3 separate regions of the Homo sapiens genome follow, and regions 2 and 3 are each linked to region 1. Evidence: fine-mapped expression QTL. A gene starts in region 1. Each other region holds a variant in brackets. All regions are shown on one strand. Distances are between the middles of the regions.

Region 1 (2,763 bases):
TGTTTCACTCTGACCACCGGTGCATGTCATGTACCCCCTGCTTACTCAATCGATCACGACTCTCTCACGCGGACCCCCTTAGAATTGTGAGCCCTTAAAAGGGACAGGAATTGCTCACTCGGGGAGCTCGGCTCTTGAGACAGGAGCCTTGCTGATGCTCCCAGCCGAATATACTCCTTCCTTCTTTAACTTGGTGTCTGAGGAGTTTTGCCTATGGCTCGTGCTGCTACCATCCTGCCTGCACCCAGGTGAAACAAACAGCCTTGTTGCTCACACAAAGCCTGTTTGGTGGTCTCTTCACACGGACGCACATGACAGTGGTGGCAGGCGCCTGTAATCCCAGCTACTCGGGAAGCTGAGGCAGGGAGAATTCCTTGAACCCGGGTGACAGAGGTTGCAGTGAGCTGAGATTTTGCACTCCAGCCTGGGCGACAAGAGCAAAACTCCGTCTCGAAAAAAAGAAAAAAGAAAAGTTCACAGTGATGATGCCCACCAAAATCAAATAGAAGGTCTCACACATCCAGGAAACTAGAGTAGGGGATGAGATGGGAAAAGGATCTACAGGAGCTTCAACTGTGACAAAATGTTAAGAGCTGAAAAAGTTGCTGATGAAGATACACTGTGATTTTTTCAGAGCATTTTTTTTGCATCTACTACTGTAAAAATCAAATGAAAACAAAATCTAGACCAAAACGACTGTCTCCTTTAAGAAAGGAGCGATAGGCTAGATCTGAGAGGATGACTGTGGAGAATATTCGGACTCTGACTCAACGACCTAAACTGCCTCATTGGCTCAGTTACCTCCCTGGTCCCTGTATACATTTGAGTTTGCGATCCAACATAATTAACCAGTCGATCTGATTCCAAGTCAACCATTTAACAACCTGAGCACAAAATTTAAGCAGGCAGTTTCTTCCCTTGTGGGAAGGGAATGACAACTTCAACTTTATGGATTGTTGTGAGCGTCCCAATAACTTGTGTAAAACTTTCCTAAAACGTTAAGTGTGCCAGACACATACTGGTTTATATGGGTATCAGCTAATTCCTGGATCCAGCCTTTATTTCCACGGATCTAGGGAATAATTTTACATGGGGAAATATACCCCTCGAACCAAGGAGTTCCCCCAGGGCCGAAGCCTGACTTGGCAGGAACACAAAACACCTGAGGAGGGGCGCGGCGGCCCTAGCCTGGTGCGCATGCGCCACTGTAAAGGCCGTTAGGTCTGTCCCTGGCGCCCGATTAGAATATTTAATTCCAGTTGGAGCGTTTTTCCTCACCTTACTGTATTTTATTTCGGTAAATACCCACACATTTTAATTTCTGAGAGGCACAAATTCCTCTCAGACTCATTCAAATTGACCGAGTAGTCTTATAAGGTGCCTTTTGTCTCATTGTAAATCCTCAGTAAAGTTTGCAGTTTAGGATGATAACGTGATTTTTGCGTAAAAATAACAACTCATTTCACCTGAAAAGGACCACGACAGGAGCAGGGACTCGAGTTTCTTTTTATTCGGGCACTTCAGTAGTTACCTCTTGCTTGGGGGTGGTGCCGCGTGTGGACCCGATGGACCCCGGCGACGCCGCCATTTTGGAGTCTTCCCTAAGGATCCTCTACCGGCTTTTCGAGTCAGTGCTGCCGCCGCTGCCCGCGGCTTTGCAGAGCAGGATGAATGTGATAGACCACGTGCGGGACATGGCGGCCGCGGGGCTGCACTCCAACGTGCGGCTCCTCAGCAGCTTGTTACTTACAATGAGTAATAACAACCCGTGAGTTGAGGCGGGTAGCTGCCTGGGGCTGAGGAGAAAGCGGCGGCGGTCTGGGAGCGGGGGCTCAGGGCACGTGGGAACAGGCGGGAAGGAGCGGCCGCCGGCGCCAGCGGAGGCTCCGGGGTCTGCGAGGGCGTCCTGGAGCGGAGCAGACTTCGGAGCGCAAGTTGGGTTCACTGGGTGCCGGCGTCAAGTCCCGCGGGGATGTGGCGAGCGGCGGCTTGGAGACATAGAAGGCAGAGGCTCTGAGGACGACCCAGGCGAGGGTTTCCTGAGGCACCTGTCGCGGGGCAGCGCGACTGTCACATCGCTAGGCTGAATCCTTCCCTCTCGGCTCCTTCCAGAAGAACGTTTTTTTCTCTCGCTGCAGCTCAGGGACCCAGCCTCCTGGTTTTTATGCGCTAGCCCCCGCATCTGAGATTGGTCCCCCCGTTAAGTGTATCAGGAGGGTCCACTTTCTGGCCTTGGGAAACCCCTGAAAACGGGGCCGGGCGCGGTGGCTCACGCCTCTAATACGAGCCCTTTGGGAGGCCGAGGCGGGAGGATCGCTTGAGCCCAGGAGTTCAAGACCAACCTGGGCAACATAGGGAGACCCTGCCTCTACGAAAAGTAAAAATTAAACAATTAGCCGGGCGTGATGGTGCGTGCCTGCGGTCCCAGCTACTCGGGAGGCTGAGGCAGGAGGATCGCTTGAACCCAGGAGGTCGAGGCTGCAGTGAGCCGTGATCGCATCATTGTCCTTTACCGTGGGCGACAGAACGACTGCCTGTCTCAAAAAAAGGAAACGGGAGACTCCATTAATGGGTGGGCGTGGCGCCTTTCATGTTTCCTTGAAGCACTGAGCTGATTCCATCCTTGAGTGCATGTCCCTCTCCTGCTTAATATCCTTTATTGGCCGGGCGTAGTGGCTCATGCCTGTAATCCCAGCACTTTGGGAGGCCGAGGCGGGCGGATCACGAGGTCAGGAGATCGAGATCATCCTGGCTAACACAGTG
Region 2 (2,763 bases), 120 kb after region 1:
TTAATCCAAGGTAAAAAGCACGTTCTGCTGTAAACTGGGAGACAGTCATGATATTGTGACTCAGATATCTATACACTGTGATAATAGGAAGAGCTCTTAGTATCATAAAAAGAAAACGAAAGAAAAAAGTGCTTAAAAAGATCATAAGCACATTTTGCTCCTAGTATTCTCAGAAACTTGCACTGTGCCTTTGGGCCCTCAAACAATTGCTCAATAAATGAAGAAATTTACATCAAGTTTTTTTTTTTTTTTAAATAAAGAGGAAATGGAAATTAAACATTTCGAGAATGATACAGAGAATTACCAATAAACGTTACGATAATTTCTGGGGGAGGACTTTCAGTCATTAATAAAACGGAAAAAAAAGCATGAATTAGAACTCGTTCCCTTCTGATCCAGATATAAAGCTATGTAAAAACATTCAATGCTTTCAGGCATGAGAAAACAATCTTTTTAAAAAGTACTCTATTAAATCCACCTTTCAAGTCATTATTTTAAGAAAAGCTCTGAATAAACTAGTTAAACCAATCAGTAATTTGCCCTTCTTATCCCATTTTTAAAATCAAAAATTAAAAGATACAGAAGAAAATTAAAATCACTACAAATCCAGTATCAAATGCTTTGAGTATTCTCTTCTGAGAAACTACAGTAAAAAGATCTCATGTATTTTCAGAAAATTCTACTGAAACAAACTCACCCAAGTTTTTGTGACATCAAAAGCACTAACTTAGGCCAGGCGCAGTGGTTCATGCCTGTAATCCCAGCACTTTGGGAGGCTGAGGCAGGTGATAACCTGAGGTCAGGAGTTCGAGACCAGCCTGGCCAACAAAGGTAAACCCCATCTCTACTAAAAATACAAAAATTAGCCGGGCGTGGTGGTGGACATCTGTAATCCCAGCTACTCAGGAGGCTGAGGCAGGAGAATCACTTGAACCCAGGAGGTGGAGGTTGCAGTGAGCCGAGATTGCACCACTGCGCTCCAGCCCGGGCAACAAGAGTGAGACTCCATCTACATTTAAAAAAAAAAAAAAAAAAAAGCACTAACTCAAGGGGGTCTAGTAGGAAGAAAAGAGACACACACATGCAAATGGTCAAATGTAACCTAAAGGTTGAGAAGTACCACAGTCTAGAAAGTTTTATTAGCATTTTAGGGTCAATCTAAGTAGCTGACATGGGAAACGACGGTGGAAGGTAGAGAAACCTATGCAAATTATTACCATATTAATTATGACTTTATGATTTAGACAGATGGGAGACCAACATGGCCCTAATGCCCACCTCCTTCAGATCTTTTCGCAAATGTCACCTTCCTCAAGAACTTTCCGGACCACCCAATTTGAAAACTGTTCCCCCTTTCACATACTCTGATATCCAAACCCCCTTGCTTTATTTTTCTCAGCAGTATTATCCTCCAGGTAAGGGTCTCTGTCTGTTTTATTCACTACTGTATCCCCAGTGTCTGTGACAGGTGCTCAATAAATATCTTAACAAAGCAGGAAAAGAGAAGAAAGGGCAGGCATCAGTTAAGCAACCATACGATGTGTTACATTTAGA[A/G]CAAAGTTGGTAATCAAGAAGAGAATGAAAAGATAAAGTGAATGATAGAGGGGGGGTCTTCAGTGTCAAATTAAGCAATTTCTAATGTTCATATGCACTGGAAGATGAAGCTTATTTCTTTCAATCCAAGTGACCGTTTCAAAAAAACACTTTGGCCAATATTACAAATTAAACTAGATCCCTACAGGTCACAAGCATAGCTTCCTATTCTATGCCACAGCAAAATATTAACTATAGTTAACAGTTTACTACTTAGTTTGATATTTGAAGTAAGTCACTAATATTCTTTTTAATTTAAGCATGACTTGATGACGCATGATGTATATAAGAATCGCCTAGTCACTTCTCCAAAAAAACCTGAATATTCTACCATGTTTTTTCTGTTACATCAATAGGAATAAACTGACACAAAAAGAGAGTCAGTGCTCTTTCTTTTAAAAGATACAGACAGGAGGAATGAAACACTAAAGACAATGCAGCAGCAGTACCCAACCCCACATGAAGAAAATCAACACAACAGGTCTTATATCTGCAATTCCTTGATCAAACAAACCAAAGCAAATTAATTCTATAGAAGTACTCCCTAAACACTTATTCTTTTGCTATTTACCAACTCATAAAATAAAAATGTAACACAGTTCATTTCCTGAGCAGTAACTCCACAGTTACCAAAAAGGAGCTCAAATTTCAACTCCAAAATATAGCTCTATAATGCTCCACAAAGCCAAGGTCCTATCTTATAAAAAAAATTAAAGCATTTATTTAAAAACCTGCTTGAAATGCTTACAAACTATAAGCCTCTAATTACTTCAAAGTAAAAAATGAACAAACAAAACCCACACACATCATTAATTTAAAATGCTAATATAAAGTCACTCAAACTGGCCACTCAAAAAACAGACCCAGTGCAACCCCAATAGTAACACCAGTGGCATGGTTTCCCACACTGCTTCAACTTGTAACACAGAGAATTCAGTAAAAATGTATTTTGCTTCTGGCTTGTAGTCAGCTGATTAATTTTTAAGAAGTTCCCAATGACCTTATCGGACCCCATTATTTAACTGCCAACGCTATTATGTACCCAGTTAAATACAAATCTTACACTAGCTCCAAATGTATCATTTATTTTGCCCCATGACAATGTATTGATAAACTATAGTTAATCGGGTCTACTCATTTCCCTTAATTGGTAAAACAGCAGCCATTTTC
Region 3 (2,763 bases), 250 kb before region 1:
TGCCCGCCTCTGCCTCCCAAAGTGCTGGGATTACAGGCATGAGCCACCGTGTCCGGCCCCAGAGCATTTTCAAATGGAAACCTGGTACCCATTAGCAGTCACTCCCCATTCCCCCTCCCCTAGCCCTGGGCAACTGTGAACCTGCATTCTGTCTCTGGATTTGCCATTTCTGGACATTTCATTAGATGGGATCATATAATGTGTGATCTTGTCTGTCTGCCTTCTTTGACTTAGAATGACGATTTCATAGGAGCGGGGGTCAGAACCTCATCCTTTTCATGGCTGAATATTGGGTCTGTTCCTTGTAGCTCTGTGACTTGGTTTTACCTCACATGAGCTCTCAGATCCCTTTAGTTCCAAAATAAAACCAAGGAAAAACAACAACAAAAACCCTACTAGAGGCTTGCACCTTTATTAAGCTTGCTGAATTTGAATATGTGTGAAAACTTCATTACAAAGCAATTTGCCATGCAATTTTCACAAGAAACCACATCATAATACTTTAATTACTGAAATAATTACCTACAGGTTGAAAGGATCAAAGGATTAATAGTCTGTTCTTGCAGAGGCCTGAACTTGTTTAATTTTAACCTGAAACTGCAGAAATTGCCAAGATAATGGCAGGTTAATTTTCAGAGGCCAGAATCTACTGATCTGAGAGTGTGAGCGGCAAGGCCCTGGCGGGGGGGTGGGTACGGTGATGGCCTGGAATTTCCAAGGGAAGAGAAGGGTCACTCGAGGTCCTTTGGGGCTCCTCCCACTGCTGCATCTCCACTGCCATTATGGTAACCCCAACACTGTCACCTCCACCCTGCCATCAGTGCCCTCGCCAACATCATCACCAGCTGTCACCGTGACTGCCATCACCACCAGCTGCTTCCCACAGCCACCATCAGTGAGACCACCCACCCACTCCACACTGCTCCCCACCTGTCCTCTGTCAGCCCATCACAAAGCCCAGGAGGCTGTGTTTCCCATAGCAGCTCTCCTGAATTCTCCAGGACACCAGGACTCCTCTCCCCTTCACCATCTTCACCCACTATGAGCACACGAGAGCTGGGGCAGGTACCTCGCATCTC[C/T]AGGCAGAAGCTAGTTTGTAAGCACAGCAGCCGTCCCTGTAGCCAAGGAACCTGCAGTCAGCAGTCCCCAAGGTCCCTTCCAGGACTCGGACTGCCGAGGCAGGGCTGTGTTGAATTATTTATTGAGCATCTGTTCTGTGAGCACCCCAGCAACAGCAGTCCCCAGGAACAGAAAAATACAAACTTGCCTGGGCACGGTGGCTTATGCCTGTAATCCCAGCACTTTGGGAGGCCAAGGTGGGTGGATCACTTGGGGTTAGGAGCTCGAGACCAGCCTGGCTAACATGGTGAAACACCATCTCTACTAAAAATACAAAAATTAGCCAGGCATGGTGGTACGTGCCTGTTATCCCAGCTACTCGGGAGGCTGAAGTGGGAGAATTGCTTGAACTCAGGAGGCAGAGGTTGCAGTGAGGCGAGATCATGCCACTGTACTCCAGCCTCGGTGACAAAACAAGACTCTGTCTCAAAAAAAAAAAAAAAAACTGATTATTTGTTGCCATCTAGGTATGGGCAGTTTGGTTTGAGAGGTGGTATTTGGGAAACAGTGACCAAAGGTCAGAAAATGAGCCAGAGATGTTCTGGGAGGGCAGGGAAGGTGGGCAGCGCCTAGAGGCAGAGCAGGCCAGGAGGGTGGCGGGAAGGAGGCTGGCAGCTTCTATCAGAGAGGAGCTGGCCCTGCACAGCCTCCATCCTGGTGGGGCCTCTGGCGAGCTATAGCAGTAGCCTCCCATCCTTAATGGCTTTGCCCAGTGGTTTCACCCACGTGCTTCCAAGCCAGCTCTTAATGATGGGAGAGGGAGGGCCTCTGTGGGGGTCTCATGATCTCTGGCACCTTCCCTCGGCCCACAGGTCATCATCATCTGCTTGGTGGTTCTGGATGCCCTCCTGGTGCTTGCTGAGCTCATCCTGGACCTGAAGATCATCCAGCCCGACAAGAATAACTATGCTGCCATGGTAGGGGTTGACAGCTCTTCTGGGGTCTTACTGATATGTTTTGCTTGTGTTATCTGCACAGACGGGGTGCAGAGTGGAGCAGCTGACACCCCACTTGGAGTAGCAAGGTCTGTGGTAGTTTGATAGGTGTTTTCGTCTTCCTTTCCAGAATATGGATTAGCATTTACTACAAGCAGGAAACGTTGTTTCACATGATGGCTGGAATCCTGGGCGATGCTAGGCTAGTGAGCTGGAGCATGTGGGGTGGATCCACTCTGCCATCTCTGGGTCAGGAGGGGCATTCCTCCTGTCTTCTGTTGATGGTCTGCATGGTCCCCTTGCTGGGCCATCAGGGGATCTGCTGTTTATTCACTGATTCAGTTACTGAGCCCATCCCAGATGTTCACCCAAAGGGTGGTGGACATACCCTGTCTCAGTTCCAAGGGCGGAGATCAAGAGAGTTAAAATCATCCCTGGTTGGGCATGGTGGCTCACACCTTTAGTCTCTGCACTTTGGGAGGACAAGGCGGGTGGATCACCTGAGGTCAGGAGTTCGAGACCAGCCTGGCCAACATAATGAAACCAAATCTCTACTAAAAGTACAAAAAAGTAGCTGGGCGTGGTGGCATGCGCCTGTAATCCCAGCTACTCAGGAGGCTGAGGCAGGAGAATCGCTTGAACCCCAGAGGCGGAGGCTGCAGTGAGCCGAGATAGCGCCACTGCACTCCAGCCCGGGCAACAAGAGCAA

Evidence for each region. PIP is the estimated chance that this variant, and not a neighbour inherited with it, causes the effect. A credible set is the group of variants that fine-mapping cannot tell apart.
Region 2: its variant is the best candidate, but not a certain one, in a credible set for the expression of ANAPC7 in whole blood (INTERVAL, PIP 0.68).
Region 3: its variant is the best candidate, but not a certain one, in a credible set for the expression of ANAPC7 in unexposed skin (GTEx, PIP 0.59).

Annotation. Positions count from the first base shown.
Region 1 is chr12:110,402,532-110,405,294 of GRCh38, reverse strand. It overlaps ANAPC7 (anaphase promoting complex subunit 7), which reads left to right and starts at 1,587. Exons shown (of 11, transcript NM_016238.3): 1 at 1,587-1,768. The coding sequence starts at 1,668.
Region 2 is chr12:110,284,190-110,286,952 of GRCh38, reverse strand. The region is part of intron 3 of ATP2A2 (ATPase sarcoplasmic/endoplasmic reticulum Ca2+ transporting 2); the gene reads right to left. Among named protein-coding and RNA genes, the nearest start is that of ATP2A2, 4.3 kb to the right of the region's middle. The variant A/G (reference allele first, on the strand shown) is at 1,555.
Region 3 is chr12:110,654,507-110,657,269 of GRCh38, reverse strand. HVCN1 (hydrogen voltage gated channel 1) reads left to right here. Exons shown (of 8, transcript NM_032369.4): 5 at 1,932-2,036. Among named protein-coding and RNA genes, the nearest start is that of HVCN1, 33 kb to the left of the region's middle. The variant C/T (reference allele first, on the strand shown) is at 1,080.